Homo sapiens: one gene and its partners. The protein of the gene in region 3 interacts with the protein of the main gene of each other region in a biochemical or structural test. Each region holds a gene or a part of one and is shown on either strand. Other genes may lie near its edges.

Region 1 (10,488 bases), on a different chromosome or scaffold from region 3:
AGCTCGCTGCAGTCTCAAACTCCTGGGCTCAGGCAATCCTCCTGCCTTAGCCTCCTGAGTAGATGGGGCTGCAAGGGCACGCCACTATGCCCAACTGATTTTTACAAATTTTATTTTTAGTAGGGACAGGGTCTCGCTGTGTTGTCCAGGCTGGTCTTGAACTCCTGAACTCAAGCAACCTTCCTGCCTCAGCCTTCCAAAGAACTGGGATTATAGGCACGCCTGGCTTTGAGTGTAATTTAGACACAGAAGTGTTGATCTTATGCTGTTTGTGCTTCCGAGTGGACCTGGTGGTTGCCTAAGTGGATTCTGGGGACCATGTTCAGACACGCAGTGAGAGTGTGTGTTAGCTGTGCAGACTGACTTAATCCTTAGATCTTTTTGCAGGAGTTGAGGGCAAGGGCTGTGTGCTTTGCCTGTTTCAGAAGGTGGACTCTGGCAGCTGTGTGAAGTCTAAAGCTTCGCTTCGCTTCTCTTTTCAGAAGACAGATGGAGCTCCTATTGTCTATCATCACTGGCTGCCCAGAATATTTGTACAAGTAAACTGCACTGCCCTGCTGCCCCTGAGCACACGGACCCGTCCGAACCGCGGGGCAGTGTGTCCTGCTGCTCCCTGCTGCGGGGACTGTCCTCAGGGTGGTCCTCACCTCTGCTTCCGGCCCCTGTGTGCAACCCTAACAAGGCCATCTTCACGGTGGATGCCAAGACCACAGAGGTATTTGCTTCTCTTTTAGATCCAGCTGTGTAGATGTGGATTTGTGGTTTGTGCCTTAAACCTGGGATTTGTGTGTTTTAATGCAATTAGAAAAACATTTGGGCACTTCGGGAGGTGGGAAGTTTGCTTGAGCCCAGGAGTTCAAGACCAGCCTGGGCAACATAGCAAGATCCCATCTCTACAAAGAAATTAGCCAGGTGCGGTGGCACACACCTGTAGTCCCAGCTACCAGGGAGGCTGAGGCAGGAGGATCACTTGAACCCAGGAGTTCAAGGTTGCAGTGAGCTCTGATTGCGCCGCTGCAGTGAGCTCTGATTGCGCCACTGCACTCCAGCCTGGGCAACAGAGTGAGACCCTGTCTGTCAGGAAAAGGCTGGCTTCTGCATGGTCGTCCTGGGCTGTTCTGGGCAGCTGGTGGAGCTGCTGGGGATGTCTGCATCCTTGCTCCTCTTTGTGATTCCTCAGATCCTGGTTGCTAACGACAAAGCTTGCGGGCTCCTGGGGTACAGCAGCCAGGACCTGATTGGCCAGAAGCTCACGCAGTTCTTTCTGAGGTCAGATTCTGATGTGGTGGAGGCCCTCAGCGAGGAGCACATGGAGGCCGACGGCCACGCTGCGGTGGTGTTTGGCACGGTGGTGAGTGGATGCGGGTGCAGCGTTCAGTCTGGCCTCAAGACCAGCAGTGTGTGGCAGGAACAGCTCAGTGTTCCCTACCAGGAGCTCTGCTGGGGGTTGGGTGGCACCAGGACATCTCAGCTTCTTCAGCTGAAAATGTCATCCCAGGCGCCGTTTCCCCGCTTCAGCTGCAGTGGGGGTGGGGGCCCTTTAAGAACGAATCATCGCAGGAATGGACACTGTGGCTGTGGCTGGACTCCTGGGAGGTGTCGTGGGTGGCCCTTGCTTTGTCTGAGGGCTGTAGCTTCACTAATGTTTTGCAGTCCTGCCGGGCAGCACATCAGATGCTCAAGAGTAATATGGTTTTATTGTCTATTGATTTTTACATTCTGTTTGGTGTTTGTGGGAGCGGGCGGGGGTGTTGGCCTGGAAGCATTTCCCTAGACAGTGTTGATTCTCTCACCTGTGCCATGTGTCCAACCTGGATGTTGACAGGTGAGCTGAGTTGGATGTGGAGGACTGAGCCCAAGGCATGGAAAAAGCCCAAGGCATGGCTGATTGTAGGGTTTCCCCTCGTCAGCCGGTCGGGGACTGGGGGAGTAGCGTTGGAGGGCAGTGGAGGTTGGGGTATGATCTGAGGCTCTAGTAGTCATCCAGATCCTCCAGGTTGCCTGTTTCCCACCTAGTGTGTGGCTTTCACACAGAAGACCCCATTGCTTGAACTGAACTGATGTCACAGGCTTAGGACCAATTGTATCAGAAAATCACTGGTTCAAGAAACTGACTACTAAGAAGAAAAAAACTAAGATATTCACCATGTGTTGGTGTCTGTTTCTTTAAGAAATAACAGATACTGCTTTTTTCACCCTGCAATATTACCATGAACTGAGAATGAAATCTACTCTCTTGATAAAACTTGCACTTGGAGATTTTAATGTTCAGTATGGGAAATCTTGTTTGTGCTTTGGTAAATTTCTGAAATGAAAATCAGGTAAGCAGAAGTTGAAAACGTTGCAGTGCCTGGAGTTTGGGCCTCCTGGAGGCAGGTGCCCCACCCATACTGGTCTTTTGGGTTCATGGCATGCAGGTGTGAACCTGTCTGTTTCCACAGGTGGACATCATCAGCCGTAGTGGGGAGAAGATTCCAGTGTCTGTGTGGATGAAGAGGATGCGGCAGGAGCGCCGCCTATGCTGCGTGGTGGTCCTGGAGCCCGTGGAGAGGGTCTCGACCTGGGTCGCTTTCCAGAGCGATGTGAGTGTGCAACTTTGCCTCATGTCTCATGGACGCTGGAGCCGGCGTCGTTCTCCTCTTCAGCAAGTGCTGGTCCCTGTCTCATTCCTTTGGGAAGAAAGAGAGGATGAGGAGCCTGGAGGGTCTGCCCAGTGGTACCCTCGCTGATTGCGTGTGCTTGGGCAGGGAACGAACTTCCTATACTTCAGTTCCTCACCTGTGAACTGGGGCATAATCATAACTCCTCATAAGATTGTTTCAACATTTAAATGAGATAATATATGTAAACCCCCCAGGATAGTAGCTGGCATTAGAGACAGCCCTCATATGTGAACTGGGATGTTATTAATGAGCTGTGGTGTGGGCCAGGCTCCTGAAGAACAAGAAGGCCCACAATTTAGGTACGTCTCTGGTAGAAGGAGACAGATGATGAAGCTCTTATCAAATTCATGTGTATATGTCTCTTGCCCTTCCGATGGAGAAGTCATGTTGGGGTCTTGCTTTTGGCTTGAACATATTGAAGCTTAGTTAAATTTACAGCTGGAGCACAAGAAGCTTTTATGATAAGCACGGGGCTTTTCCTCCAGGGCACCGTCACGTCATGTGACAGTCTCTTTGCTCATCTTCACGGGTACGTGTCTGGGGAGGACGTGGCTGGGCAGCATATCACAGACCTGATCCCTTCTGTGCAGCTCCCTCCTTCTGGCCAGCACATCCCAAAGGTAGGGCTCCTGACCTCCCGCACTGTGTGATGGGGTGGAGTTCTTAGCTCTGAATCCATAACTGGAGACGCAGACCAAGGGTTTCTGAAGGCAAGGGTGGCCTTAGGGGTGGGACATGCTCAGTTTTGAGCTTCCTGTGCGCTGAGGCCTTGACCAAGGGCCGGAGCCTATGTGGTCTCCCAGCTGACCACTCTTGTCCCCTGAGTCTTCTCCCAGGAGCTGGGCCACCCACAGAGGTGGATGCTGGGACGCTGCCCAAGGCTGAGGGGTGGGAGGTAACATCCACAGCTGCGCAGCTGGTGTAGTGCTGCCTGTGGGGCCAGTATCCTGGTGCCAGATCAAGGATGGCACAGTTGCCAGTGGCGTGGCTGAGCCCCGAGCCTGAGCCCCACAGTCCTCCCTCCCTCCCTCCCTGCTGGTGCCCGGCCCCTCACTGGGGTGTCTCACTTGCCCTGGGGTTGCTGTGCCTGGGGCGGCTCTGGACACTGAGTCCTCCCCACCCACAGAAGGGCTCTTTCCTGGGCCAGCTGGGCCTGGGAGGAGAGGGAAGGCAGAGCAGTGTGGGTGTGAGATGTCCTGGGGACCTTCCCCGATGACGTGGGGTAGAAGTCGGGTCGGACGCAGCACAGACTCAGTGCTCTGTCCACGTGAAACACGGCTTAAGCCAAACGACAAGCCTTTCTTTCAGAATCTCAAGATTCAGAGGTCTGTTGGAAGAGCCAGGGACGGTACCACCTTCCCTCTGAGCTTAAAGCTGAAATCCCAACCCAGCAGCGAGGAGGCGACCACCGGTGAGGCGGCCCCTGTGAGCGGCTACCGGGCATCTGTCTGGGTGTTCTGCACCATCAGTGGCCTCATCACCCTCCTGCCGGATGGGACCATCCACGGCATCAACCACAGCTTCGCGCTGACACTGTTTGGTTACGGAAAGACGGAGCTCCTGGGCAAGGTGGGGCTGCCCTGGGCGCCTGGCTCCCGTTCCCTGGGAGGAAGCTGCTGTGCTCTGCAGTGCGGGCTTGCGTGTGGCACAGGCCTCGCACCCGGCAAGCTCTCCAGCTCGCTCCTTTACCCAGGAAGGACCTTGGGTCCAGGGAGGGAGGTCCCTGCTCATGGCTGCCAAGCTCCTTCCTCTCCACCCTTCCCCAGCAACCACCGTCGGAGGGAGAGGAGCACTGTGCTTCGAAGCCCTGAGAGATCTGGTCTGACTGATGGACCAGGGTTTACGACACAACTGCGGGGGTTCATTTCTCACCCTAGTAGAAATACTAAAAAGTAGCTAAGCTGAATTGTAGTTACGTTAAATTTAAGTTAGTTAAAAAGCAGTTAGTGTTCTTCCTGGATGAGGGGTTCCCACAGGAGCTGAGGGCATTGAGACCTTGCAGGGATTTTGGGGGCATGGACACTTGTGCCCTCTGTGAGGTTAGAGCGGGTTCTGGCATTACAGCTATGGGCAGTGTCCCGGTGAGGGGGCCACACACAGGTTCAGAGGAAGCATCTGTCAGAGCAGCTCCTGGCCTGGGAGGAAGGCCCCACAGTCCTTCTGTCCTGGGTGCATGTCACTGTTCCGGCCACCAGTGAGCCGCGTGAGGTGAGGCTTGCAAACACAGGCTCCCAGATCCATCTAAACATGGGGCCAAAGGCCAGATGTCTGCTCCAAAGATGTGTCGATGTCACTGTAACTTGCCGCAGAGTATGTTTTTACCTTTTTCTTAAGGGGAAAATCACAGATCACATGTTGAGCATCTGAGGGGCTTCAGGTGCGTCGAAGGGCATTTGGCCCGAGGCCTTTCCTGACCTTAAGGGTGAACCCTCAGGGACTGGCTCTCCTTGTGTTCATTCCTCCCCCAGGGGGACGGTCCAGTGGGTCAGCGTGGATCCTCCAGGTTCTGAAATGTCCCTGCTTTGTTTTCTAGAATATCACTTTCCTGATTCCTGGTTTCTACAGCTACATGGACCTTGCGTACAACAGCTCATTACAGCTCCCAGACCTGGCCAGCTGCCTGGACGTCGGCAATGAGAGTGGGTGTGGGGAGAGAACCTTGGACCCGTGGCAGGGCCAGGACCCAGCTGAGGGGGGCCAGGGTAAGACGTCCTCTTCCTCCTGAATGCGCCTGTAGCTGCTGAGCCCCAGACAGCCCCATGCCTCTGAGACAGGGCTGGGAGGAGCAGGAGCTATTGTCCCTCCAGAGGCTCAGGGGTGGTGGGGGGCGGAGTAGGGGGTGACTGTTTTCTGGTTTGATGTTCCTCTCTGTCTCGGGGGCTGTGACATATTCTTATAAACATATGAGCATAGAGAAGAGAATAGAAAACCCCCCAAGAGTGCATCACCAGTGCCCATGATATCCGAGACACAGCATCCGAGACACAGCTAACTGACCGTCTTGTCTTTTCTAAGTAAACTTATATAGCTTCATGTAGTTTAAGTGAAGCCATGTAGCATATCGGATTACCGCTGACCCTTGAACAACTGGGTTTGACATTAGAGGGTCCACTTATACACAGATTCTTTTCAACCTCAGAAATCCAGTACTGGTGGGAGGTGAAGTTGGCGTATATGGAGGGCTGACTTTCCATGCACCTGCGTTCCACGGGTGGGCTGTGGGACTTGAGGGTGCTCGGATTTTGGCATTCTGGGGGTCCTGGAACCCATCCCCTGAGTGTACTGAGGGTTGACTGCAATTCCTAAATTGAATGTTCTACCAGTATTTCCTGGTTTAATTATGTTTATCCCACATAGTTTTAATTTAACATTTTAAATGATTTCAACAAATACTCCGAGTCCCTTTCATATGCACAGTCTTAGGTGTGTGGCTTGTGAAGACAGGGTGAGCACACTGCCTCCTGTCCCGAGGGACCCACTCTGGCTGGGAGCAATGAGGGGCAGTAGAACCCGCTGATGTCCTGGCAGGGCCCACGCCTGAGCTCCTGGTAAGGAGCAGGCCCCTGGCTGCTTCCACAGTGCTCATTCTTGTTGACAAGCATGGGGTGGGGGTGCGCCCTGTCCCTGGCTCTGCCCTGGTGGGGACCCCGGAACTCTGCCTCCAGGGCCTCTGCCCACCTGGAGCGTGGGCTCACTGGGTGTGGTTCTGGAGTTCCTGGGGCAGGCTGGGGCCCAAGGGTCCAGGTGATGGTGTGGCAGGGGTGTCAGGTGGGGGGGTCTCTGTTCTATGGAAGGACACAGTGGGGGTGAGAGAGAGAGAGTGGCCAGTGCTGGCAGAAAGCACAGCCACCTCGGGGCTCTGCATCGTGGTGGGGCCAGGCGGGTCGGCAGGTGCTGGCTTGCGAGGTTGTCCTGCATGCGGTCACTCGGGTATCGAATGAGTGCGAAAGTGGATTTAATACAGTCACTGAGAAAAACTACAGCTTCACGAGACTGACCAGCCTGGTGAGATAAACATTTACCGTCAGACACTCTTTAGCTGTCTGGGCATTGTGTGAGTTCTTTGGCACATGCGCCCAGCCTCCTTCCCCACAGGGTCTCGCCTGGGGCATTAGAAGCTGGATTGTAACATTTGTTTTAAAAGATACTTTGTTAGGCTGTTGGTTCTCCTTACAATCCCGGCTTTCCTTAGCATGTGGTTCCCTTCATTGTATCTGGGTTTTTCTATCTCAGTCTGTCCTTTATACAAGCTTTTTCCTCTAGCACTAATTATATTCCCCTTCCCCTTTTTCCAGAATTCCAAATTCTGACCTGTGCATGCATGCCTGTGTTGAGTACATGCTGTTTGTCGGATATTTGGTGGTGGGGGGAGGGGATCACATTTCTGTTACTCTCGCATTGTTTCCTTAGGATGAATTCTTAGAAGTGGAACTTCTGGATTCAGGGAATGAACACGTTTGCTAGTTACTGTCAAAAATGCCTCTTGGAGAAGTTATGCCGAACCACCCAACTGTCCTGGTCACAGAGCAGGCTTCTCTCGGCTTGGGGCTAGGGTTCTTTCTGGGGTCGTCCTTTTTTTTTTTTTTTTTTGAGACAGAGTTTCGCTCTTGTTGCTGAGGCTGGAGTGCAGTGGCACCATCTCGTCTCACTGCAACCTCTGCCTCCTGGGTTCAGGTGATTCTCCTGTCCCAGCCTTCCGAGTAGCTGGGATTACAGGGATGTAGCACCATGCCTGGCTAATTTTGTGTTTTTAGTGGAGACGGGGTTTCTCCATGTTGGTCAGGCTGGTCTCGAACTCCCAGCCTCAGGTGATCTGCCCGCCTCGGTCTCCCAAAGTGCTGGGATTACAGGTGTGAGCCACTGTGCGTGGCCTCCCAGGGTCCTTCCTAATGCAGGCTGCTTTCTCTCATGTAACCAAGAGACATACATTCATCCCCTACCACGTGCCAGGCTGCACTGCGTGCAGATGCCCCTGCGCTCACGGGGACTGGAGGGAGCCAGGTGACATGGAGCCCAGGAAGTGGCCAGAGCTCGGGAGGAAGGCAAAGAGGGGAAGAGGGCATGCAGTCTTAGGCTTGGGGTCCCAGGAGGCCTAGGGAAGCCTTGTAGATACCCAGGTACAGCATTTCTGGGATCAGGAGCCATGATCCCAAGGCCTCTAATACTTCAGATATGGCAGGGAGGCCAGGTGGAGAGACCTGGAGGAGTGAGGCCACAGAGTTGGGGGGCCATGGCCGAGACTTCGGCTTCTATCCAGAGTCAGATGGGAGCTGTTGGAGGGTTGTCAGCAGGTGAGTGCCGTGCTCTGACTTGGGTGTTAATAGGATCATGGTAGCTGGCTGCAGGTGTCCTGGGCCAAGGAGCAGGGAGACAGGAGGCAGAGAAGAGGGCGCTGGGTTGGACCTGGGACGCCTGGGGTGGTGAGAGGTGGTCGATGCTGGTCATGCTGTGAAGCAGTCTCAGTGAGTTCCAGGCGAATGAGCAGATTCGTTTTAGGGAGTGCCTGTGAAGAGCAAACGCTCTTTTTTGGTGTTGCTGCCAGATCCAAGGATTAATGTCGTGCTTGCTGGTGGCCACGTTGTGCCCCGAGATGAGATCCGGAAGCTGATGGAAAGCCAAGACATCTTCACCGGGACTCAGACTGAGCTGATTGCTGGAGGCCAGCTCCTTTCCTGCCTCTCACCTCAGCCTGCTCCAGGGTAAGTCCCTTGGTGGGAGGTTGCAGGTTTACTAAAAGTCCAGACAGATGGTAGGTGAATGAGGAACAAGTCAGAGAGAAATGTTCAGCCTATTATTCATAGTAACATTGAAAACTCACATGTGTTGAGCACCTGCTCTCTTCCACACACACTGACTGCTGGGTTTTCTGTGCTGCCTGGCTGAGTCCTTATCAGCCTGTATGGGAGGGCACCATGGTGTTACTGTCTCACTGTAGGGATAAGGAAACAGGCTGTGGAGAGTTCCAGAATGTTGAGGTAGATTTCAGAGAACTGATGGAATCATAATTTTATCATTTTCTTTTTTTTTTTTTTTTTTTTTTTTTTTAGACAGAGTCTCGCTGTGTCACCCAGGCTGGAGTGCAGTGGTGCGATCTCAGCTCATTGCTCATTGCATTGCAAGCTCCGCCTCCCGGGTTCACACCATTCTCCTGCCTCAGCCTCCCGAGTAGCTGGGGACTACAGGCGCCCGCCACCACGCCCGGTTACTTTTTTGTATTTTTTTTAGTTTCACCATGTTGGCCAGGATGGTCTCGATTTCCTGACTTTGTTATCCACCCGCCTTGGCCTCCCAAAGTGCTGGGATTAATTTTATCATTTTCAAAGTCATATGAAGCTGTTCTCTTTGCACATTTTAAAATATTCTATTTAGAGTAAAGAAAGTTTATATTAGAGAATTAGGAACATTTGGAAAAGTAGAAATAAAAACTTGTTCTATTCTCATAGTCGTATTGTACATAGCACGTGTGTGTGTATTTTTAACCCATTTTCTTCTTCGGAATCTTTTTTTTTTTTTTTTTTTTGAGATGGAGTCTCACTCAGCTGCCCAGGCTAGAGTGCAGTGGCGTGATCTTGGTTCACTGTAACTTCTGCCCCCTGGTTCAAGTGATTCTCCTGCCTCAGCCTCCTGAGTAGCTGAGACTACAGGCACCTGCCACCACGCCCGGCTAATTTTTGTATTTTTACTAGAGGCGGGGTTTCACTATGTTGGCCAGACTGGTCTCGATCCCTTGACCTCATGGTCCACCCGCCTTGGCCTCCCAAAGTCCTGGGATTACAGGTGTGAGCCACCATACCTGACCCAGAATCTTTTCTTATGCACAGCATGCAGTAAAGGTGCCCAAACTGTAGGTGCCCAGGTGGCCCAGGACCCTTTCTTGGCTGCCTGCAGACCCTGGGTCCCTTCCTGCACTGTGCCCCCTACACCCTGCTGCCCTGGGTCAGGGCAGAGGTTAGACTGCCTGCCGTTGAGCCTGACGCATGCATTTCCTTCTGTCTGCCTTCTGCTTATTGCTGTGTCTGTGATATTTATCCACATAGTTGTGTTTTCTAGTCTTGAAATTATTTAAAAAATATGTAATAGATACATATAAAGTATGTATGTATGTTTAAAAATATGTAATGCATGGGCCAGGCGCGGTGGATCACGCCTATAATCCCAGCACTTTGGGAGGCTGAAGTGGGTGGATCATGAGGTCGGCAGATGGAGACCATCCTGGCTAACACGGTGCAACCCCGTCTCTACTAAAAATACAAAAAATTAGCCAGGCATGGTGGCGGGCGCCTGTAGTCCCAGCTACTCGGGAGGCTGAGGCAGGAGAATGGTGTGAACCTGGGAGGCGGAGCTTGCAGTGAGCCTAGATCGCGCCACTGCACTCCAGCCTGGGCGACAGAGTGAGACTCCGTCTCAAAAAAAAAAAAAAAATGTAATACATGCATATGTGTTTTTTTAATTATAGAAGAATAATGGTAAAAGCAATAGTTCCCCTGGCCGTCTTCCAATCCCCCTCCTCCAATCCTACTCTTTCCCCCAGGGGACCGCAGTCAGCAGTTAGAGCCTTCCAGGCCTTCTTTCTTGTGCATTTAACTATAGTTGTATATTATACTTCTATGTGTGCATGTGCATATGTGTGCTCACATGTAACTGCTTCTGTTCCCTGAGCACGGCTGGGATTATACCATACACAGTGTCCTAAATGTGTGTGTATGTGTACGCACACACATGTCCTGCAGATCTTCCTCTACAGGCCTCCTCGGAACCGAAGCCTCCTGGATGGCACCCTAGCTCATGGGCCACTTTCCCACTGGCCGATGTGCCGGTGCTTTCT
Region 2 (10,886 bases), on a different chromosome or scaffold from region 3:
TGGAGTCTCCCTGTATTGCCGAGGCTGGTTTTGAACTCCTGGGCTCAAGCAATACCCCGGCCTTGACCTTTTGGAAATGTTGGGATTACAGGCCTGAGTCACCCTGCCCAGCCGGGATGTTTTTAATAATTATGCCAGAGCAGGCACAAACAAGGACTTTCCACCAGGGCAAACTAGGCCATATGGTTACCCTAATTATATACCACATCAAATGTAAATAGCCAAAAATTTCAAGAGTAGTTTATAGTTCCAGATATATTTAAATTATAATATCCAAGCCCTAAATTATAATATGGACAATATAAACCAAGTGAATCCCTTACTAAATATAAAGCTCTGAATATCTCACATTGTACACAAAATCAATTTCAGATGCATTATAAACGTCAATGTGAAAAAGCAAAGCACAAAAAGGTTTAAAGATAATCAAAGTATCTCTATGATGTTTTAAAAAAAGAAACACTAGCCATAAAAAACTGATGAACATGTTTACATTAAAATGAAGAACTTCTGTTAATTTAAAGAAACTACTAAATGGAAAAAATGTTTGCAATATATACATCCAACAATGGAGATATATTCAGAATACAGAACTCTAGAAAAAGACGTGTTTCGATTTAAAAAAGGAAAAGATTTCAAAGGCATTTTATGAAAAATGAAATCCAAACACCCAGATATGAAAAGCTGGTCAGCCCCATTTAGTAATGAGGGAAATGATTAAAACTAAATACAACTACATACCCACCAGGATTGGCTAGAATTGAAATATATGATACCACGTACGGTTGTTGGTAAGGGATATGAAACAAGAACTCTTACATACTAATAAATGAAGTAAAAACCACTAAACAACTACTTTGAAAAACTACCTGGCATTACCTGATAAAGACCAACATTCCCCATGTTCTTGCAATTCAAATTCTAAGTATATAATCTCAAGAAAACGAAATAAACATGCACCAGTGCACTTAAACAGAAATGTTCATAAAAGCATTGTTTATAATAGCCCCAAACTGCAAACAATCTAAATGCAATATCCAAAACAATGGCAGAAGGAATAAACTTGTGTTATATTCATGATGGAATATTATGAAACAATAAAAGCTAAAAATAAAATATATACAACACAATCCTATTTACATAAAGTTAAAAATGGGCAAAATTAAACTCTATTATTTAGAGATGTAAACTTATATGGTAAAACTATAAATGTCAGAAGAACATTTATATCTAGCTTAAATTAAGATGGTGATAGTTGTGATGGGAAAATATAGGTGGTGGGAGGCTTCTGGGATGCTGGCAATGTCTGTCTTGCCCTGGGTGGTGGTTACAAAGATGTTTGTTTAAAAATATTTCATTTTTATCTTATGTATCTTTTCAGCCTGTGTAGTTAGGTTTCCCAATAACACTCTCCCTGAGAAATTAAAAAAAAAAAAGTTCAAAAGAGAATGCTAAGACTGTTACTCAAAGAGATTAACTCTTAATCCATAGTTTAAAAACAGTAACAGGGATCTCTACATCCAAATACACACTGTATTATAAATTCCATGAATAAACTTTTGGCTTCAGGCCGGGTGCAGTGCCTCACACCTGTAATCCCAGCACTTTGGGAGGCCAAGGTGGGTGGATCATCTGAGGTCAGGAGTTTGAGACCAGCCTGGCCAACATGGTGAAACCCCGTCTCTACTCAAAATACAAAAATTAGCCAGCTGTGTTGGGCGCCTGTAGTCCCAGCTACTCGGAAGGCTGTGGCAGAACTGCTTGAACCCGGGAGGTGGAGGCTGCAGCGAGCCAAGATCGCACCACTGCACTCCAGCCTGGGCAAGAGCAAGACTCTGTCTCAAAACAACAACAAAAAAAAACGAAAACAAAACAAAACAAACACTTTTGGCTTTAATCTTTTAGACTACCATTCTTCGTTCAAATTTTGAAATGGAAGGTGAAATTTTCTGATATCGAATTACTCAACAAGTCATGTAAATTTTAAAATTTTAAGATTGAACTCCTTGCTTCTAATCTTGAAATCTGAAATGTGTCCAGTATTGACTAGACAGTTATAATGTAGTTTTCGATTAGATAATATCATGTAGACTAATATATAAAGGTTTGATAATGTCAGTTTTTGCGAACATAATCAAATTCCCCAAACTGGTTACACATTTAACTCATGTTGCTTAAGAAAAAGCAGCCGGGTGCGGTGGCTCATGCCTGTAATCCCGGCATTCTGGGAGGCTGAGGCAGGTGGATCACTTGAGGTCAGGAGTTCAAGACCAGCCTGGCCAATATGGTGAAAGCCTGTCTCAACTAAAAAATACAAAAATTAGCCAAGCGTGGTGGCACGCGCCAGTAATCCCAGCTACTCAGGAGGCTGAGGCAGGAGAATTGCTTGAACTTGGAAGGCAGAGGTTACAGGGAGCCAGGATTGTGCCACTGCACTCCGGCCTGGGCAACAGAGTGAGACGCCATCTCAAAAAGAAAAAAAAAAAAGAAAAAGAAAAAGCATATAATGATGTGGGATGAAATATCAAAGCCATGAGTACAAACATAAATTCAATGATTAAAAAAATTTTTCACTGCTATATTCATATATTTATCAAGTCATGACACAAAGAACAAATTTATATTTTATGTCATTATGTCATATGAATTTAACTATTACAGACTAATGAAATACTGACTCTAAAAGCTGCTGAAAAGTTTTTTAAAATGTGGGTTGTTAAAATGTAGACTTTTGGGGTTCCTGCATAAAAGGATATGTTCGTAGTTTTTAAAAAAGAACAAAAATACTTTAAAATTTTCAAATGTATTTTTTTTCTTTGTGAGGAATAAAGGTAACACAGCCAACTTATTGAGTCACTAAGCTGGCAAGACACTTTTAAATTCAGATTAGGTAAAGCAATACTTTAAAACAAATTTATTAAACCACTTTAATGAGAAATTATTTTCAACCCATATCTGGCTCTCACCCAGCACTTTTCATAATTTCATAAAGAGAGGCTTTTTCATAATTTCAAAAAGCCAGAAAAACACTATACAGCTAAGTAACTATTGTATAAAAAATATAAAAATAAATTCAAAATAAGGCCAAGCAAAAACTAAGTTACTTAAGAAGCATCACTGGGAAAGTCTTTAATAAACACCAAATACCATCCATCATACATCCTATAGCCGATTTCTAACCGCCAAGTCTACAGGTGTTTTAATGAGGTAATGTGTCACTGCATAATGTTTCACAAGGTGAAGAGGGAAATGTGGGGGTACTCCCTGGTTTTTCATACTACTTTTAAAATTAGACTTGGTGATTTTAAAAAGTGTATAATTCAATGATCTTCAGCAAATTTGCAGAGTTGTGCAACTATCACCATCTCATACTACTCCTTTATGGTGTACAGTTCTGTAACATCAAAAGGTTCCCTACCCAGGTATAAGATTTGTCCCAACACCAGGGCTATTAAAAAGATTTACCAGAGGCTGGGCGCGGTGGCTCATGCCTGTAATCCCAGCACTTTGGGTGGCCGAGGCGGGTGGATCACCTGAGGTCAGGAGTTCGAGACCAGCCTGGCCAACATGGTGAAACCCCGTCTCTACTAAAAATACCAAATTAGCTAGGGGTGGTGGCAGGCGCCTATAATCCCAGCTACTTGGGAGGCTGAGGCAGGAGAATCACTTGAACCCGGGAGGCGGACGTTGCAGTGAGCCGAAATCATTGCCTTTGCACTCCAGCCTGAGCAAAAAGAGCTAAACTCCATCTTAGAAAAATAAATAAATAAATAAATAAATAAAGGATTTACCAGAGCATCCAAGAAATATTATTAAATACTTGATCCCGTGAAACCACTCCCCTATCTGTTAACGATTTTTAAAATTTTACAGATTTCGAAAATCTTCTTCTTTATCCTTGGACCTAACCTATCCACAGGGTCCCTAACCATGCTATGCAGTTCCCACCTCTACCAGAAGTGCTGGGAAAATCACCTAGGTTATCTAGCTTCCCTCAAAGTATTTTACACTGTTGTGAGATTTCCTTTAAGATTCAGGAGCTAAAGTTTATTTTCTTTCTGGTTTCCTGGCGGAGCAAAGGCCCTGCACGTGTGAACGGAAACAAAACCCACACAGACTCTAGGGATGCCAAATATTAACACTGTGGGTAGGGGCACCTTCCTTCTCGGCCGAATTCCCTTTCCCAGAGAGCCTCCAGAGGGATCAGTCAACGCCCACTGAGCCTGGATCAAAGGTCAAGCTTGCCTGGTCAAGAAGGATCCTGGATCAAGCTTGAACCCGTTTCCAGAAACAGGGGCGTCGGGGCAGCAGCAAGCATTTTTACCACGCGCCCTAATGAGGTGGTTGCACAACAGGCTTTGAGGATTCCGGTTTAACAGGTAAATACCAACAGAGGATGAGCCGAGGGAGATGGGATCTGCTCCACGGCATCGATGGCATTTCGAGAATGTCTGCGTCGCAGAGCAAACCCAAAGTTTTAGCACATTACTCAAGAGTTCACCAGAGGAAGATCGCCACGAATTGAAATGAACAAAGTGAGAAAATGGGTGCTGTGTAGTCAACGCATCCGCGATGAACTCAAGCTGGGCGGAAAAATTCTTTGAATACTCCGGCTTTGTTTTGTGCTAAGACGGCAGAAGCCCCGAATTTCGGAGTTGGAAGACGCGTTTCTCCGTGTTCTCCGGCCCGTTCTCGGACTTCAGGGCCGCCCGCCGCGCACTCAGTCCCGTAGTTCCCCGGGCTTCAGGCGCGGACATTCCGGGGGGCGGAAACCAGGGAGCCGCGGGGAGGCCGCGGTCCGGCCCGCGACGCCGGGGCCCGGAGAAGGGAGGCGAGAGGCCTCCCGGAGCTCGACGGAGGGAGGGGAGGGAACGAGGAGGCCGCGGGCCGGAGCGGGGAGCAGCCCCGAGCGGCGCCCGGCTCGGCCCCCACCCTGAGGCCCGGTCCCGCGTACCTTTGGCAAGGGCTACGGTGGAGTTTTCGGTGTCGATGGTGTAGAGGATGCCCTCGTAGCGGATCTCCGCCTTGGAGATGAGGCTGATCTTGCTGCCGATGTAAGGGGTGCCCCCGCTCATGGCGCCGCCGCCGCCGCTCCCAGCTGCTCGCAGAGAGGCAGATCCCACGCCACTGTCGCCCGCTCCGCACGCCCGCTCGCTCCGTCGGCGCCTACAGCAGCCGCTTCAGACCCAACATGGCGGCGGCGCCGGCTCCGCTACCCTCCCCCAGCCTCCCGCCCTCAAGCCGCGGCGCGGCGGCGGCGGCGGCGGCGGCAGCGGCGGCGGCGCGGGGCATGCTGGGAGGGCGAGGCCGCGCTCTCGCGAGACTTGGCCGGCTACTGGTGGCTCCCGGCTCATTCGTGGCCTCGGGAGTCCCGGCAGCGCTTGTTGGCCTGGACTACGGTGGTGGTCTTGGGGCCGCGTGAGAGGAACTTCGGGGACCGGCTGAGTGCCTCGTGGCACCCGCTTGCTGCGGGCTGGAGAGGAGGCGCGCGGCCTTCCTTTTGACTCAGGCCGTGGCCGCCTTGTCGTGGGTCCTGTGTCTTTGCCGACGCGGGGCCCTCGGCCTGGAGCGCTGCCCACCCGCCTCCGAGCTGTGGCGAGCCGCTGCTCATCCTTCTAAGACGCTGAACCTGCACCTCGTGGAGCTCCTACGGCTCCATTACCGCAGTCATCGCCCGGGGAGCTTCCCCCGAGGCTGCCCCTGGAGCTGGGGCTCTCACAAGGACTCAAGTGTTTCAGCCCCTTCCTGTCCCGCTCATTCAGCCGGTCTGAACCAGTTTCATGGCTTGCAACGCCATTGTAACTCACTAATCCCAATTATCAGTATGTAGCTTGGATCAATTCCGTGAACCAGGGTTTCTGTCGAATCTCAAACGTTAAGGGTCCAAAGCCATGCTCCCTGTTTCCCCTCTAACCTGCTCCTTCACCACCGTTCCCTATTTGATGTAAACGGTACCATTTTTACTCAGCTGCTCAGACTAAAAGCCGTGAGTCAGCCTTGCCCTGTCTTGCTTCCACATCTGTTCTGACTACACCTCTCCGTTATGTATACACAATATATCCTAAATCTGACTTCTCATCTCCATTCCTACACTTCTCCCACAAGCCACGATTACTCGGGCTGAATTATTGCAGTAGCCTTCTAAAAGTTGCCTCTGTGTCAACTCTTGCCCCCAGTACTTTATTCTCAATACAGCAGCCAGAGAGATCTTCTTAAAATCTAACTCAGGGCTGGGCGCAGTGGCTCACGCCTGTACTCCCAGTACTTTGGGGGCCCGAGGCGGGCGCATCACCGGTCAGGAGTTCGAGACCAGCCTGGCCAACATGGTGAAACCCCGTCTCTACTAAAAATATAAAAAAATTAGCCAGGCGTGGTGGCGCGCGCCTATAGTCTCAGCTACTTGGGAGGCTGAGGCAGGAGAATTGCTTGAACCCAGGAGGCGGAGGTTGTGGTGAGCCGAGATTGTGCCACTGCACTCCAGCCTGGGCGACAGAGCGAGACTCCGTCTCAAAAAAAAAAAAAAAAATCTAACTCAGATCATGTCCTTCCTCTACTCACTCTACTGATCCCATGTTACACAGAGAGAAAACCAGACTTTGGTGTCTAAGGATATACATGATTTAGCTTCTCGTTCTGTTCCAGTCGCGTCTAATTCAACCAGTACTTGAGCACTTTATTCCAGTCTCTGCTCAAGCATCACCTCCAGAGATGACGTCCCTGACAGCCTTGTTTAAAATAATACCACTCATCTCCTTAACTCAGCTTGTATTTTCTTTATAGCATGTATCTCTCTCAAGTATGTCTGTTTAATTATTTGTATGTATCTGTCTCCTTCACTAGAATGTAAACATTTTGAGATAGTGATGTTGTTTTGGTTGCTGCCGTATCATCAGGGGCCTAGTAACAGCACGTGGCTCAGGGCAGCTGCTCAGTTAATATTTGCTGCATGAATGAACAGCAGGATGAAGGCAGAGCACAGGCAGGACGGTGAGCTGAGTGAGCAAATGGCGAGAAGCCTGGCATCATAAGAGAGGGACACAGGAGAGAGACAGAGCTCTGATGGGGCTGGTGCACAGTGGCTACAAAGAAAGGTTTGGAAATCCCTGTTTCAGTACAAGGTCCATGCGAGGAAGTTGAATTATTTGTTTTTGTTTTTTTGAGACAGTCTCACTCTGTCACTCGGGATGGAGTGCAATGGTGCCATCTCGGCTCACTGCAACCTCTGTCTCCTCTGTTCAAGCGATTCTCCTGCCTCAGCCTCCCGAGTAGCTGGGATTACAGGCGCATGCCACCACGCCTGACTGATTTTTTGTATTTTTAGTAGAGATGGGTTTCACCATGTTGGCCAGGCTGGTCTTGAACTCCTGGCCTCAAGTGTTCACCTGCCTTGGCCTCCCAAAGTGCTGGGATTACAGGCGTGAGCCACCGTGCCCGGAAATTCTTTCAAGGCTAAATAATATCCCTTTGTATGGACATACCATATTTTGTTTATCCATTTATCAGTTGATGAACATTTGGGTTGTTTTCACTTCTGCTATTATAAATATCCATGAGTACCTCTATGAACAAGTTTTTGTGGGAACATGTGTTTTCAATCCTCCTAAGAATGAAGTAGTTGAGCCATATGGTAACTCAGAGTTTAACTTTTTGAGGAACTGTCAAACTGTTTTCCAAAGCAGCTACACTATTTTACATTTCCACTGGCAATTGTATGAGGGCTCCAATTTTCTCCACAGCCTCACCAACACCTATTATTGTCTATCTTTTTTTGTTTGTTTGTTTGAGACGGTGTTTCGCTCTTGTTGCTCAGGCTGGAGTGCAGTGGCGTGATCTTGGCTCACCGCAACCTCCGCCTCCCGGGTTCAAGAGATTCTCCAGCCTCAGCCTCCCTAGTAGCTGGGATTACAGGCATGCACCACCAAGCCCGGCTAATTTTGTATTTTTAGTAGAGTGGGGGTTTCTCCATGTTGGTCAGGCTGGTCTCAAACTCCCGACCTCAGGTGATCCGCCCTCCTTGGCCTCCCAAAGTGGTGGGATTACAGGCGTGAGCCACCGCACCCCGCCATTTGTGTATCTTTTTGAGACAGGGTGCCACTCTGTCATCCAGGCTGGAATGCAGTGGCCCTATCATGGCTCACTGCAACCTTCCTGGGCTCAAGCAATCCTCCACCTCAGCCTCCCAGGTAGCTGGGACCACAGGTGCAAACCACCATGCCCAGATAATTTTTGTATTTTTTTGTAGAGACAGGGCCTTGCCATGTTGCCCAGGTTGGTCTCAAATGCCTGGACTCAAGTGATCCTCTCGCCTTGGCTTCCCAGAGTGCTGGAATTACAGGCGTTGAGCCCCACACCCAGCTAAACACTTTTAAATTGGGCAATTTTTCTTTTTATTGTTGAGTGGCAAGAGTTCTTTTATATATTCTAGATACAAGTCCCTAATCAGATCTATAATTTGTAAATAGTCTCTCTTATTCAGCGGATTGGTTGTCTTTTCACTTTCTTGATAGTGTCCTTTGAAGCACAAAAGTTTTTAATTTTTATAAAGTCCAGTTTATTCATTTTTGTTGTTGTTGTTGTTTGCACTTTTGGTGTCATATGCAATAAAGCATTGCCTAATCCAGGATACAAATATTTACCCATAATGTTTGCTTCTAAGTTTTATGTGTTAGCTCTTACATTTAGGTCTTTGATTTATTTTGAGCCAATTTTTGTCTATGGTATGAGGGGGACTTCAAATCTTGCCTGAAATAGAGATGGGATTAAGAAGCTTTCAGATCAAACAGGAGATGGAGTGATTACAGGAGGAAGAGTGAGATGCATTCTGGAAAGTAAGCAATTCAGTGTGGCCACAGCCTAAAGAATGCAGAGTATATTAGGAGTTATAGTGGATAGCAGTGGCCACACCAAAGGTGGTGAGGGTTGAGGGCTTTGTTTCTCCCATATTGTCCAACAGCCATCCCCTAGCCTCATAAAGTAAAGACAAATATAAGGAAAAAACAGTGTACTAGCTGGGAATTGCTTTGGACAAGCCTCGCAAATCCTCCAGATCTTCTTTCTTACCCCATAGCTCCTCAAGTGTAGAAATTCTAGAGCTTCTACTGCTGAAAACATGAATGGGGAAGAATTTAGTTTTTCTGCAGGTTGCCGGGAGCTCTTAAGCAGGGAAGCAACAATGGATTTTGGATCTTTAGGAAGCCTGCGATGGTCATAAAATGTGTCACGGTTCTCAACCTTGTTTCTAGTACATGAAACGGAGATTAATGTGCATATTACACTAGGGGCTACCAACTGATCAGCTGCATTATACATAGTTCCTGCCGCCCTAGGGTGCAGGAAACCATGAGTTGCAAAACATAAAGTAGAATCTAACAGATTGGTGACTGATTGGGTGTAGCCAGATAAGGACTCCTAGTTCCAGGACTGAACACCTAGGTCAGTCCTAGGGCTAGTGATGAGCATAAGGAGAACGGATAAAAGGAAGTTTATTTGGGGGGAGGATGGAAATACTAATAGATGCAAATAATTTTGCACTTGTTGAGCTGGAAGTGCCTGTTGGGACACCAAGCAATTGCGTCTATTTCATAATTGGTATGACCCTAAAAGTCAGGAGATCTGAAATGGAGGTGTACATTTGGAAATTGTTACAGATGGAAAAAGGATAAGCTCACTGTCAGTGGCTCATGCCTGTAATTCCAGCTACTCGAGAGGCACTGCAGCCTGGGCGACAGAGCGAGACTCTGTCTCAAAAAAAAAAAAAAAAAAAAAAAAAAAAGAAACACCAAGAACAGGCAAATCCACAGAGGCAGAAAATATTAGTAGATTAGTGGCTGCAAGGGGCTGGGACATGGGGGTGAGGAGTAGGAATGGGAAGTCACTACCAAGGGGCGCAGGGTTTCTTTCTGGGGTGATAAAAATGTCTGGAAGTAGGATGGGCACAGGGGCTTGTGCCTGTAATCCCAGCACTTTCGGAGACCGAGGCTGGTGGATCGCCTTAGGTCAGGAGGTCAAGACTAGCCTGGCCAACATGGTGAAACCCCGTCTCTACTAAAAACACAAAAAAATTAGTCAGGCGTGGTGGCGCACGCCTGTAATCCCAGTTACTTGGGAGGCTGAGGCAGGAGAATAGCTTGAATCCGGGAGGCGGAGGCTGCTGTGAGCCAAGATAGTGCCATTACACTCCAGTCTGGACAACAAGAGTGAAACTCCATCTCAAAAAGGGAAAGAAAAAAGAAAATGTCTGGAAGTATATAATGATAATGGTTGCATGGCTTTGTGGATATACGAAAACCCACTAAATTGTATACTTTAAAAAGTGAACTTAGGGCCGGGCGCGGTGGCTCAAGCCTGTGATCCCAGCACTTTGGGAGGCTGAGGTGGGCAGATCACGAGGTCAGGAGTTCGAGACCAACGTGACCAACGTAGTACTAAAAATACAAAAAAAATTAGCTGGGCGTGGTGGCGGGCGTCTGTAATCCCAGCTCCTCAGGAGGCTGAGGCAGGAGAATTGCTTGAACTTGGGAGGCAGAGGTTGCAGTGAGCCGAGATCACGCCACTGCACTCCAGTCTGGGCGACAGAGCAAGACTCCATCGCAAAAAAAAAAAAAAAAAAAAAAAAAGAGTGAATTTTATGATATGTGAATTCTATCTCAAAAAGGCAAACTTTCCATGTAAAATGGCCCTATTAAAAACTAAGTTTATGTAGCAAAAACAGGCACTTGCTTTTGAAATAATATGTAAGTAAAAAAGCTGAATACAGAATTGTGTGAGTATAAAGACTTTCTTAAAAGGAAAAAAAACAAACAACATATGAAAATAAAGGAGGAAAGCAGTAATTTCCAAATGCTATGGTACCATGGTATTAGATAAAATTTTTTGTTTGTTTGTTT
Region 3 (10,488 bases):
AAATTATGAAATAGTGCCAATCTTTCTTAAAAACTAGATTTAAGCATTTAAAAAATTTTTCAATTCAAATCATACCATAAATTCAGTCAAATATCCAAATTGATTTTTTGCAGTATTCTTATCAATATTTAGAAAAGACAAGATAGAGCAAACATCTATCCAAAAATCAGACATATCCTTGAAAATAAGTCATATACTTTCACGTCAATCCCACTGATAAACAGAAAACATGCTTTTTCAAAAACTGGTACATGGATGACAGAATTAGTGACTGTTTTATTTGAAATCTGGAACCCACAGTTTCCAAAGTTAAGCAGGGGAAGCTTAGATTTATTCTTTGTTCTTATCTGGAAGAATGTTTTCATAATCCATACCCAAATTAAGCCACAATATACTTCTTTTGAAGGGATTTTAATTCAAGACCCTAATTATTGTTTCCAGAATTTCTATTTTCAGAGGAATTATCTAGACAATTTCAATCACATTCCACCTGTAGATGCTCATACCTTAAATAATGCTGACTTTTAAGTGCACTAATTTTGTATTAATTAAAATATAAGATAAGCATGATACATCACTGTGAAAAATTGGGGAGTGTATCCAAAATATAAGCATCTTAGTGATAAACAGGAATTCTAAAAATAACTTTAAAAAGCCAGGTGCGGTGGCTCACGCCTGTAATCCCAGCACTTTGGGAGACCAAGACAGGAGGATCACAAGGTCAGGAGTTCAAGACCCGTCTGGCCAACATAGTGAAACCCCATCTCTACTAAAAATACAAAAATTAGCTGGGCATGGTGGCACACACCTGTGATCCCAACTACTCAGGAGGCTGAGGCAGAAGAATCGCTTGAACCCAGGAGACGGAGGTTGCAATGAGCCAAGATCGTGCCACTGCACTTCAGCCTGGGTGACAGAGTAAGATTCCAACTCAAAAAAAAAAAAACAACAAAAAAAGAATTTTTAGTCTAACACCACCAGCTTAAAAAAGAGTTAACTGGTACAAAAATCTCATATTATCCATTAAGCCTCTCAAAACAAAGCCAACAAAAATTTAAATATGTAAGAATAAAAGCCAAAAACCCCAAAAGCATCTAGCAAAACAACACTTTCAAACCGATGTCTTAAATACTCAGGTCAAATTTAACCACACATTTTTTAAGTGTGCTGCTACACTCACCGAAGCCAAGCATGGCACCTTATCAAGGTTAAAGAACTCATTAAAGTCAAAGTCTCCTGGGGACTGCTCAGGCAAGACAGCATCCCTTGGCACTTCCTGATCAGCCGCAGGCTCCTGTGCAAGGATGACCTCCACTTCATCCTCTTCGGCCACTCCTCCATTGCACTCTACTATACCTGAAAGCAAAACCAGGACAAAAACCGTCTGATAAGTAAATCACTCCAGTGTCCCTCTGTGGCTTCAGCCATCAGTATACATGTAGAAGAGCCACACATGACTTAAAAAGCAGACTTCTCGTGCAGGTACTGTACTTGCAAGAATAAAACAGTCCCCCTTCTACGGGAGGCAGAAAAGGAAAAAAGCCTTAATAAAGCTAGAATACCAATGGGATGTGGGGAGGATTATGGTTCCCTTCGTGGGAACTTCATATTTTCTATAGTGGAGGGGGGTCTTTTTTTTTTTTTTTTTTTTGAGATGGGGTCTTGCTCTGTTGCACAGGCTGGAGAGTAGTGGCACGATCACAGCTCACTGTAGTCTCTACCTCCTGGGCTCAGGTGATCCTCCTGCCTTAGCCTCCAGAGTATCTGGGACCACAGGTGCACACCACCATGCCTGGATAATTTTTTAATTTTTTGTAGAGACTGAGTCTCGCTAAATTGCACAGCCTGGACTTAAACTGCTGACCTCAAGTGATCCTCCTGCCTTGGCCTCCCAAAGTGCTAGGATTACAGTAGTGAGCCACTGTGTCCAGCACCATGCCTAGTTCTTTTTCTAGTGATTTTTTTTTTAAAGGATAGTCTTTGCAAGTCTCTTACTGCTTAAAAATGGAACCAAATTAATTTAGCTCTGCTTCTGCCCATGCACCTGTAGCACCACTTTCAGTCAGGGCTCAGCAACCTAAGGTATTTATGAGAAACCTGGCATGAGGGCAATTTTCACTTGCCTACAGGTTGGTTGTTGTAGCTCATCCTTCAAGGCGAAATTCAAATGTGACCTTCTCTGGGAAGCTTGCCCTGCCTACCCATTTTTGCCCTACCTAGTAAAATTAATTGCTACCTTCTCTATAATCCTTATGTCATCTCTGAGTACTTGTCACACTGTATAATAGTAACTCTCTGGTGAGGCTAAACTCTGAGGGTAGGGAACCTGGTCTAACCAGCTTTGTCTTACTCTGTAGTGCCAGGTATACTCTACAATGTTCAGTTGTTTTTAGGATGGGGAGACAAAGTGAAACTGCCAGATGCTAACATTTAAGGCATCTGACATCTTAGTTTTTAATGTTTTTATTTATTTTAAATACATAGCAAGGGCAACCTAGAGACATTCTGTAGTTAGCTAATGGGATGAACCAAGACCCCTGGATTCTACTCCAGGCTCTGCCATGAAATCCATCCCTTCTCTCCAGGTCTCAATTTCTCTCTGCATCTGTAAAATAAGGAGGTGCCACTACCAATCTATCTCACTCCTGACTCCTGCACTTGATACAAGAATGGTTGAAATTCAGATTTCACCTCACTTAAGAAAAACATAATTTTTTCTCACCAGAAGCCTGATCTTTATCGTTAAAGTGGTGCTTTATTGGGTGCTGCTTTAATTAAGAATGAGACAAAGACATATCTCAAAGCCAATTTAATAGCAAAGTCTTCCAAGTTACCTATCAATTTCTTACATTATCCTAGGGAACACTGTGTGATAGCACAAAGATAATGGTAATATGTACTATATTTTGAAGACTACAAAAGAAGATGAGTATTTTGATTCTCCATTTCCTTCTCCTTCTAAATAAATGCCATCAGCTTATTTCTGCTTATATTTGTCTTCATCAAAATGTTAAGGTGGCACTGATTTTTCCCTTATTTATTAAAATAGCTTTCCCAGACCAGGCGCAGTGGTTCACGCCTATAATCTCAGCACTTTGGGAGGCTGAGGCAGGTGGATCATGAGGTCAGGAGATTGAGACCATCCTGGCTAACACGGTGAAACACCATCTCTACTAAAAATACAAAAAATTAGCTGGGTGTGTTGGCACGCGCCTGTAGTTCCGCTACTCCGGAGGCTGAGGCAGAATTGCTTGACCCTGGGAGGCGGAGCTTGCAGTGAGCCAAGATCGCACCACTGCACTCCAGCCTGGGTGACAGAGCGAGACTCCGTCTCAAAAAAAAAAGAAAATTAATTAAAAAAAAAAATAGAGGACTGGCGCAGTGGCTCACGCCTGTAATCCCAGTACTTTGGGAGGCTGAGGCGGGTGGATCACGAGGTCAGGAGATCGAGACCATCCTGGCTAACATAGTGAAACCCCATCTCTACTAAAAATACAAAAATTTAGCTGGGCGTGGTGGTGGGCGCCTGTAGTCCCAGCTACTCGGGAGGCTGAGGCAGGAGAATGGCGTGAACCCGGAGGCGGAGTTTGCCGTGAGCTAAGATCGTGCCACTGCACTCCAGCCTAGGCAACAAAGCAAGACTCCATCTCAAAACAAACAAACAAACAAAAAACAAAAAAAAAGGCTTTCCCCTTTTGTTGCCTAGTATCTGCCAAAAGGCTTTCAACTAAGCCTGAAAGCTTGAGGCAGGTAGAATTTACTGAGTGCCTTCTTGGAGGCTGAGTTCTGATGGGTACATGTGTTCTTCAATGCTAAAGGTAACCCTTAAGTTATGATAGGCATTGTTCTTCCCTTTACAAAGAAACAGGCCCAGCTGTCAAAATTTTGTCAAAAATTATCCTTTTCTAAGCAGGAGCCCTAGTACTTTAACCCAGGTTAGTCCCCACCTGGCTCTACAGTGCCTCCTTCCCAAGACCATCAGCCTGGGACTGGCCACCTTAGAGCCAGGTCACTGCCCTAAAAAATGATTGGCTGCAGACCAATGGGCTCCCACTCTGCAGCAGGTACTTCACACACATTAGCTCTGGCTCCTTCAGTTTAGCAAGGGAGATATCTGACCCCATCTTACAGCTGAGGAAACTAGGTTTTTTTGGTTTTTTTGGAGACAGAGTCTCAACTCTGTCTCCCAGGCTGGAGTGCAGTAGCACAATCTCGCTGCAACCTGTCTCCTGGATTCAAGCAATTCTCCTGCCTCAGCCTCTCCAGTAGCCGGGAGTACAGGCATGCGTCAACACACCCAGCTAATTTTTGTATTTTCAATATAGACAGGGTTTCACCATGTTGGCCAGGCTGGTCTCAAACTCCTGACCTCAAATGATCCACCCGCCTTGGCCTCCCAAAGTGCTGGGATCACAGGCGTGAGCCACCGTACTCATCCTGAAACTAAGTTTGAGAGAAGGCAAATCACAAACAACTGACCTGGGAAGGCCTAATACCATGATGAAGAAGGTAGGCTCTGATGCCCAGAAGCATCTTGCTTTACTCTTGACTTCACTACTTATTTCCATGGTGACTACCTTAAGTGTCCTTGAGTTACTTAAGCCCTCTGAGCCTCCATTTGCTCATCTATGAAATGGGCATAAAAAAGTACCTACACTGCACAAGGTCATTAGGAGATGAAGGATTACACAGACAAAATACACTCACCACTGTGTTTAGGACATAATTGCTCAATAAATGAGACCTCTCATTTTTCTACCACGTTTCTTATTTCTGGGGAACTCTTTCATGTACACAGTCCTCTTACAGGATAACTTCAGACTTTTCTGTTTAGTGTGGCAGGCAGAACGAGTTAGGGAAACAGTATGATCTACACTTAGTGAATCCTCACTTAAGCAGTTGCAGGGGCTGGGCATGGTGGCTCACACCTATAATCCCAGCACTTTGGGATGCCGAGGCGGGTGATCACCTGAGGTCAGGAGTTCGAGACCAGCCTGGGCAACATGGTGAAACCCCATCTCTACTAAAAATAGAAAAAATTACCCAGGCGTCATGGCAGGCACCTGTAATCCCAGCTACTCGGGAGGCTGAGGCAGGGAAGAATCGCTTGAACCAAGGAAATGGAGGCTGCAGTGAGCTGAGATGGTGCCACTGCACTCCAGCCCGGGCAACTGAGCGAGACTCCGTCTCAAAAAAAAAAAAAGATTTCAAAATCAGGATGCATCATGAAAAACTTGCCATTTCCTATACATCTGGTGCCCATTCCTAAGTGTACAATTAGCCAGTGATAATCACATCTCTATTTTATTTTTGAGACAGTCTTGCTCTGTCACCCAGGCTGGAGTGCAGTGGTGTGATAGCTCACTGCAACCTCTGCCTCCCAGGTTCAAGCAATTCTTGTGCCTCAGCCTCCCGAGTAGCTGGGACTACAGGCACCAGCCACCACACCCCACTAATTTTTGAATTTTTGTGGAGACGGGGTTTCACCATGTTGGCCAGGCTGGTCTCAAACTCCTGACCTCAGGTGATCCGCCCACCTCGGCCTCCCAAAGTGTTGGGATTACAGGTGTGAGCCACCACGCCCAGCCTACATCTCATTTTAAAACAGCGAACTTCCCTCCCAAAGTTTGAACTGACCTTCCTTCACAGAGGCTGTCCGTCGCCTTGTTCTTTTTCTCCCTTTGTGATCTTCTTCTAGTATCTTATCATCAAAGCCAGTCAGTTCGATGGTTTCAGACTGACTTGTGGGTCCAGCAGAGAACCACTCTGGTTCTTCTTCTGTGTAAGAATCATTTCTTCTACGCTCACCAAAGACACGCTTACTATCTCCAAACTCTCTCTGGAAAAGTACATAAAGCAAGATTAAAAAATTTCTAGTCAAGCCATTTCTACTTCAGTCAAGGTCTTCGTTGTAATGTTCAATAGTGAAAGGAAGATATGATGCTGTATACCTGAGGCCCATCACCACCCCCACCCCTTCCTCCCTGACTGGTTTAAGAGCAGGCTGTGTTCATGCCTGTTCTCAAAGTAACCTGGTATAAAAAAAGTGAATATCAAGTCCCCAAGCACATGAACTACCAAAGAATCTAGAAGACAAACCCAGGTCGGGTGTGGTGGCTCACGCCTGTAATCCCAGCACTTTGGGAGGCCGAGGCAGGCCGATCACCTAAGGTTGGGAGCTTGAGAGACCAGCCTGACTAACATGGAGAAACCCCGTCTCTACTAAAAATATAAAAAGTTAGCCGGGTATGGTGGTGCGTGCCTATAATCCCAGATACTGGGCTGAGGCAGCAGTGAGTCAAGATCGTGCCATTGCACTCCAGCCTGGGCAACAAGAGCGAAACTCCGTCTCAATTTAAAAAAAAAAAAAAAAAAAAAAGACAAACCCTGAAACGCTTGTCCTTGAAGTCCCTCTCTCGGTCTCTGTCTCTCAAGTCCCGCAGGTCCTTATCGCTAAGACGGTGATCCTTCTCAAAGGTCCGGGCAGAGATTATCCTCCCACTGCCAATCCTACGTCCACCAAGCAGACGAAGCCCATCACTATCTTTCTCTAATGGACTTCCTGAGCGCCGGGAGCTAACAGCGGCTGTCACGTGGCAGCCCCCTCCAAAGCTCCGTCTCTGAGGGCTGAGAACAACATCTAAGTCATCTTCTTTCACACGCTCTCGTGGATCTGGAAGGACGTGGGAAAGACAAAGTTAAACAAACCAACAAGGGTGTTTTCTTCTTTTTTAGATAGTATGTCCATGACTGATGGGAGGAAGGGGATGGTTGGAAGAGAGTCACCACTAAAATTGGGCTTATCAGCAGATTCAGGGTAACATGTACATTATGTATTTAAATAAGGCTGAGACATTGGCCTTCCTCTTTGCAGCAATAGAAGTACGTCACGATAAATAATTTTCCATGATTAGTCTTTGCAGTGCCTTTATTTTGACCAAATCCTTATCTAAGAATTATTAGCAAATGTTTTGTCAACTAATAAACTACAGCAGGCGTATTTGAAAAAATAACTGCTTAAAAAGTTAAAGTGTCTCTTCAACAAAATGGTGTTGAACGGTTAGATATCCACAGACAAAGAAATGAACTTAAATCTATATTTGGGGCCGGGCATGGTGGCTCACGCCTATAATCCAGTACTTTGGGACGTCAAGGCAGGTGGATCACGAGGTTAGGAGTTCAAGACCAGCCTGGCCAAGATGGTGAAACCCCGTCTCTACTAAAACTACAAAAATTAGCCAGGCATTGTGGCAGGTGCCTGTAATCCCAGTTACTTGGGAGGCTGAGGCAGGAGAATCGCTTGAACCTGGAGGCAGAGGTTGCAGTAGCAGAAGTCACCCCGCTACACTGTAGCCTGGGCAAAAGACTAAGATTCAGTCTCAAAAAAAAAAAAAAAAAAAAAAAAATATATATATATATATATATATATATAAACAGATATATACAAAAATTAATTCAAAATGGATCACAGATCTAAATGTAAAACCTAAAACTAAAAATTTCTAGAACAAAATATAGGAGGAAATCCTTGTGGCACTGGGTTAGGCAAAGTTTTCTTAGGCATGACACCAAAAGCATGATCCATTTAAAAAACACTGATAGACTGGGCTTGATCAAAATTTAAAACTTCTACTCTTTGAAAGACACTGTTTAGAGAATGCAAAGACAAGCCACAGACTGAGACAAAATATTTCAAAGCATTTTTCTGATAAAGGACTTAAATTCAGAACACATAAAATCTCTTAATAAACCAACCCAGTGGCTCACGCCTGTAATCCCAGCACTTTGGGAGGCTGAGGTAGGTGGATCACCTGAGGTTAGGAGTTCGAGACTAGCCTGACCAACATGGTGAAACCTCGTCTCTACTAAAAATACAAAATTAGCCAGGCGTGGTGGTAGGCACCTGTAATCCCAGCTACTTGGGAGGCTGAGGCAGGAGAATCGCTTAAACCTGGGAAGTGGAGGTTGCAGTGAGCTGAGACTGCACCACTGCACTGTAGCCTGGGCACCAAGAGCCAGACTCTGTCTCAAAAAAAAAAAAAAAAAACCAACACAATTGAAAAATAGACAAATGGTTTGAACAGACACTTCACCAAAGAGGTTATGTGGAAGGCAAATAAGCATATGAAAAGATACTCAACATAATTAGTCATTAGGGAAATGCAAATTAAACCATGTGATACTACTACACGCCTATTACAATGGCTAAAATTTAAATGACCATTCCAAGTGCAGATGAGGATGTTGGAGCAAGTGCAACTCTCATACACCACTGGTGGAAACGTAAAATGGTACAACTACTTTGGAAAACAGTTTGGCAATTTCCCAGAAGGTTAAACATACATCTGCTATACAACCCAGCCATTTTAATCCTAGGTTTTTACCCAAGAGAAAAGAAAGCTTATGTCCAGAGACTTGTACATGAATGTTCATTGCAGCTTTGGTTATTTAACAGTCAAAAACTGGAAACAACCCAAATGTACATCAACAGATAAACGGATCAACTGCTAAATCCATACAATGGAATACTATTAAGCAATGAAAATAAACTAGACACTCAACAACGTGGATAAATCGTAACTATTCTTAATGAAAAAAGCTATACAAGGAGTATATACTATAGTAACTCCATTTATATAAAATCCTAGGAAATGTAAACTAATCTATAGAAACAGAAAGCAGATACAGAAAGCAGATCAGTCCGGACACTATGGCTCATGCCTGTAATCCCAACACTTTGGGAGGCCAAGACAGGTGGATCACCTGAGGTTGGGAGTTCAACACCAGCCTGGCCAACATAGGGAAACCTTGTCTCTACTAAAAATACAAAAATTGGGGCCAGGCACGGTGACTCATGCCTGTGATCCCAGCACTTTGGGAGGCTGAGGTGGGTGGATCACTTGAGGTCAGGAGTTTAAGACCAGCCTGGCCAACATGGTGAAACCCTGTCTCTACTAAAAATACAAAAATTAGCCAGGCATGGTGGCGCACGCCTATAATCCCAGCTACTTGGGAGGCTGAGGCGCGACAATCGCTTGAACCCGGGAGGCAGAGGTTGCAGTGAGCCGAGATCGCGCCACTGCACTCCAGCCTGGGTGACAGAGCAAGACTCTGTCTCGGTGGGGGGAAAAAAAAATTAGCTGGGCACGGTGGAACGTGTATGTGTAATCCCAGCTACTCAGGAAGCTGAGGCAAGACAATCGCTTTAACCTGGGAGGCAGAGGTTGCAGTAAGCAGAGACCACGCCACTGTACTCCAGCCTAGGCAACAGAGGGAGACTCTGTCTCAAAAAAACAACAAAAAAAAACAAAGCAAATCAGCGCTTGCTTGGGAAGGGGGAAGTGTTGTGGGGGGGGCAGCTAAAGGGAGGGACACATAGGAATACTAGGGAACTTTTGGGGGTGATAAAAATGCTTATGTTGATTTTGGTAACGGTTTCACAGGTATATACACATGTCAAGACATCAAATGGTATACTTTTTGTGCAGGCTATATGTAAATTCTATCTCAATAAATTTATTGGTGTAGGAAGAACAAACATGTCACCATACAAAAAATGTCTTCCTAGAAAAACCAGGAAACTGAAGATTAGTCCATGTGAGAAAAATCTGCTTTAATTCTGTTATCACAAACAGCTCCTAGAATGTTCTGTTGTGTACTTTTACAGAATTTCTGTGCAGTCTGTTTTTTCCAAACACAGGATACAATATGGAGAGTTTTCTATGAGTCAGTACGTCATGAACATTATTTGCCAATAAACACATCTGCAACATGGTTTTACAGGACAATGCAATGTAACATTCCCATATATGGATACACCGAAGTTTACGCGACCCATTTCTACTGTTGGATATTTAGGTTCCTTCTCAGTTTTCATCATTTTAATAAAGTCTCTGCATATCTTTAATGATTCTGCTAGAATAAATTCTTTGAGAGACATTACTGTACTGAGTGTACTGACAGACTGTGTAGAAGGGTCTTATAGCTTAAACTAGAGCCGGGCTATCTTTTTCGTTTAGTTCCAAGTTTTTATGATGAGTCGTCCTCTCATCTCAAAAAAAGTTCTTGCAACAAGTTCCTTGACTGCTTTTATATTACCTGGTCTCCATTTCACCCTTAAACAACGTTTCTAAAGGGGTAAACTTTAAACTAGGAAAGTTGGAAGATCAGACTTAACTTCAGTCTCAAACCGTATCCAAGCCTTTATTCCGATCACAGTCCACTATGAATTAAGAATTGCCAGAACTAGGCCGGGCGCAGTGGCTCATGCCTGTAATCCCAGCATTTTGGGAGGCCGAGGTGGGTGGATCACGAGGTTAGCAGTTCAAGACCAGCCTGGCCAAGATGGTGAAACCCCATCTCTACTAAAAATACAAAAACTAGCCAGGCATGGTGGCAGGCACCTGTAATCCCAGCTACTTGGGTGGCTAAGGCAGAGAATTGCTTGAACCCAGGAGGCAGAGGTTGCAGACTAGGCAACAGAGCAAG

Evidence for each region.
Region 1: of the proteins of EIF4ENIF1 (region 3) and PASK, one has a biochemical effect on the other in vitro, tested with the Homo sapiens proteins (one study listed by IntAct).
Region 2: the proteins of EIF4ENIF1 (region 3) and LSM14A are reported together in a solved structure, tested with the Homo sapiens proteins (one study listed by BioGRID).

The regions. Positions count from the first base shown.
Region 1 is NC_000002.12:241,130,748-241,141,235, reverse strand, and holds part of PASK (PAS domain-containing serine/threonine-protein kinase), read left to right. Parts: intron 1-482; coding exon 483-715; intron 716-1,180; coding exon 1,181-1,351; intron 1,352-2,441; coding exon 2,442-2,582; intron 2,583-3,148; coding exon 3,149-3,283; intron 3,284-3,971; coding exon 3,972-4,232; intron 4,233-5,196; coding exon 5,197-5,365; intron 5,366-7,398; exon of another isoform or gene 7,399-7,806; coding exon of another isoform or gene 7,807-7,954; intron 7,955-8,205; coding exon 8,206-8,362; intron 8,363-10,488. UniProt on the Homo sapiens protein: Serine/threonine-protein kinase involved in energy homeostasis and protein translation. Phosphorylates EEF1A1, GYS1, PDX1 and RPS6.
Region 2 is NC_000019.10:34,166,832-34,177,717, reverse strand, and holds the start of LSM14A (protein LSM14 homolog A), read right to left. Parts: upstream 5,215-10,886; 5' UTR 5,076-5,214; coding exon 4,955-5,075; exon of another isoform or gene 4,246-4,954; intron 1-4,245. UniProt on the Homo sapiens protein: Essential for formation of P-bodies, cytoplasmic structures that provide storage sites for translationally inactive mRNAs and protect them from degradation. Acts as a repressor of mRNA translation. May play a role in mitotic spindle assembly.
Region 3 is NC_000022.11:31,457,295-31,467,782, forward strand, and holds part of EIF4ENIF1 (eukaryotic translation initiation factor 4E transporter), read right to left. Parts: intron 6,674-10,488; coding exon 6,387-6,673; intron 5,840-6,386; coding exon 5,638-5,839; intron 1,357-5,637; coding exon 1,181-1,356; intron 1-1,180. UniProt on the Homo sapiens protein: EIF4E-binding protein that regulates translation and stability of mRNAs in processing bodies (P-bodies). Plays a key role in P-bodies to coordinate the storage of translationally inactive mRNAs in the cytoplasm and prevent their degradation.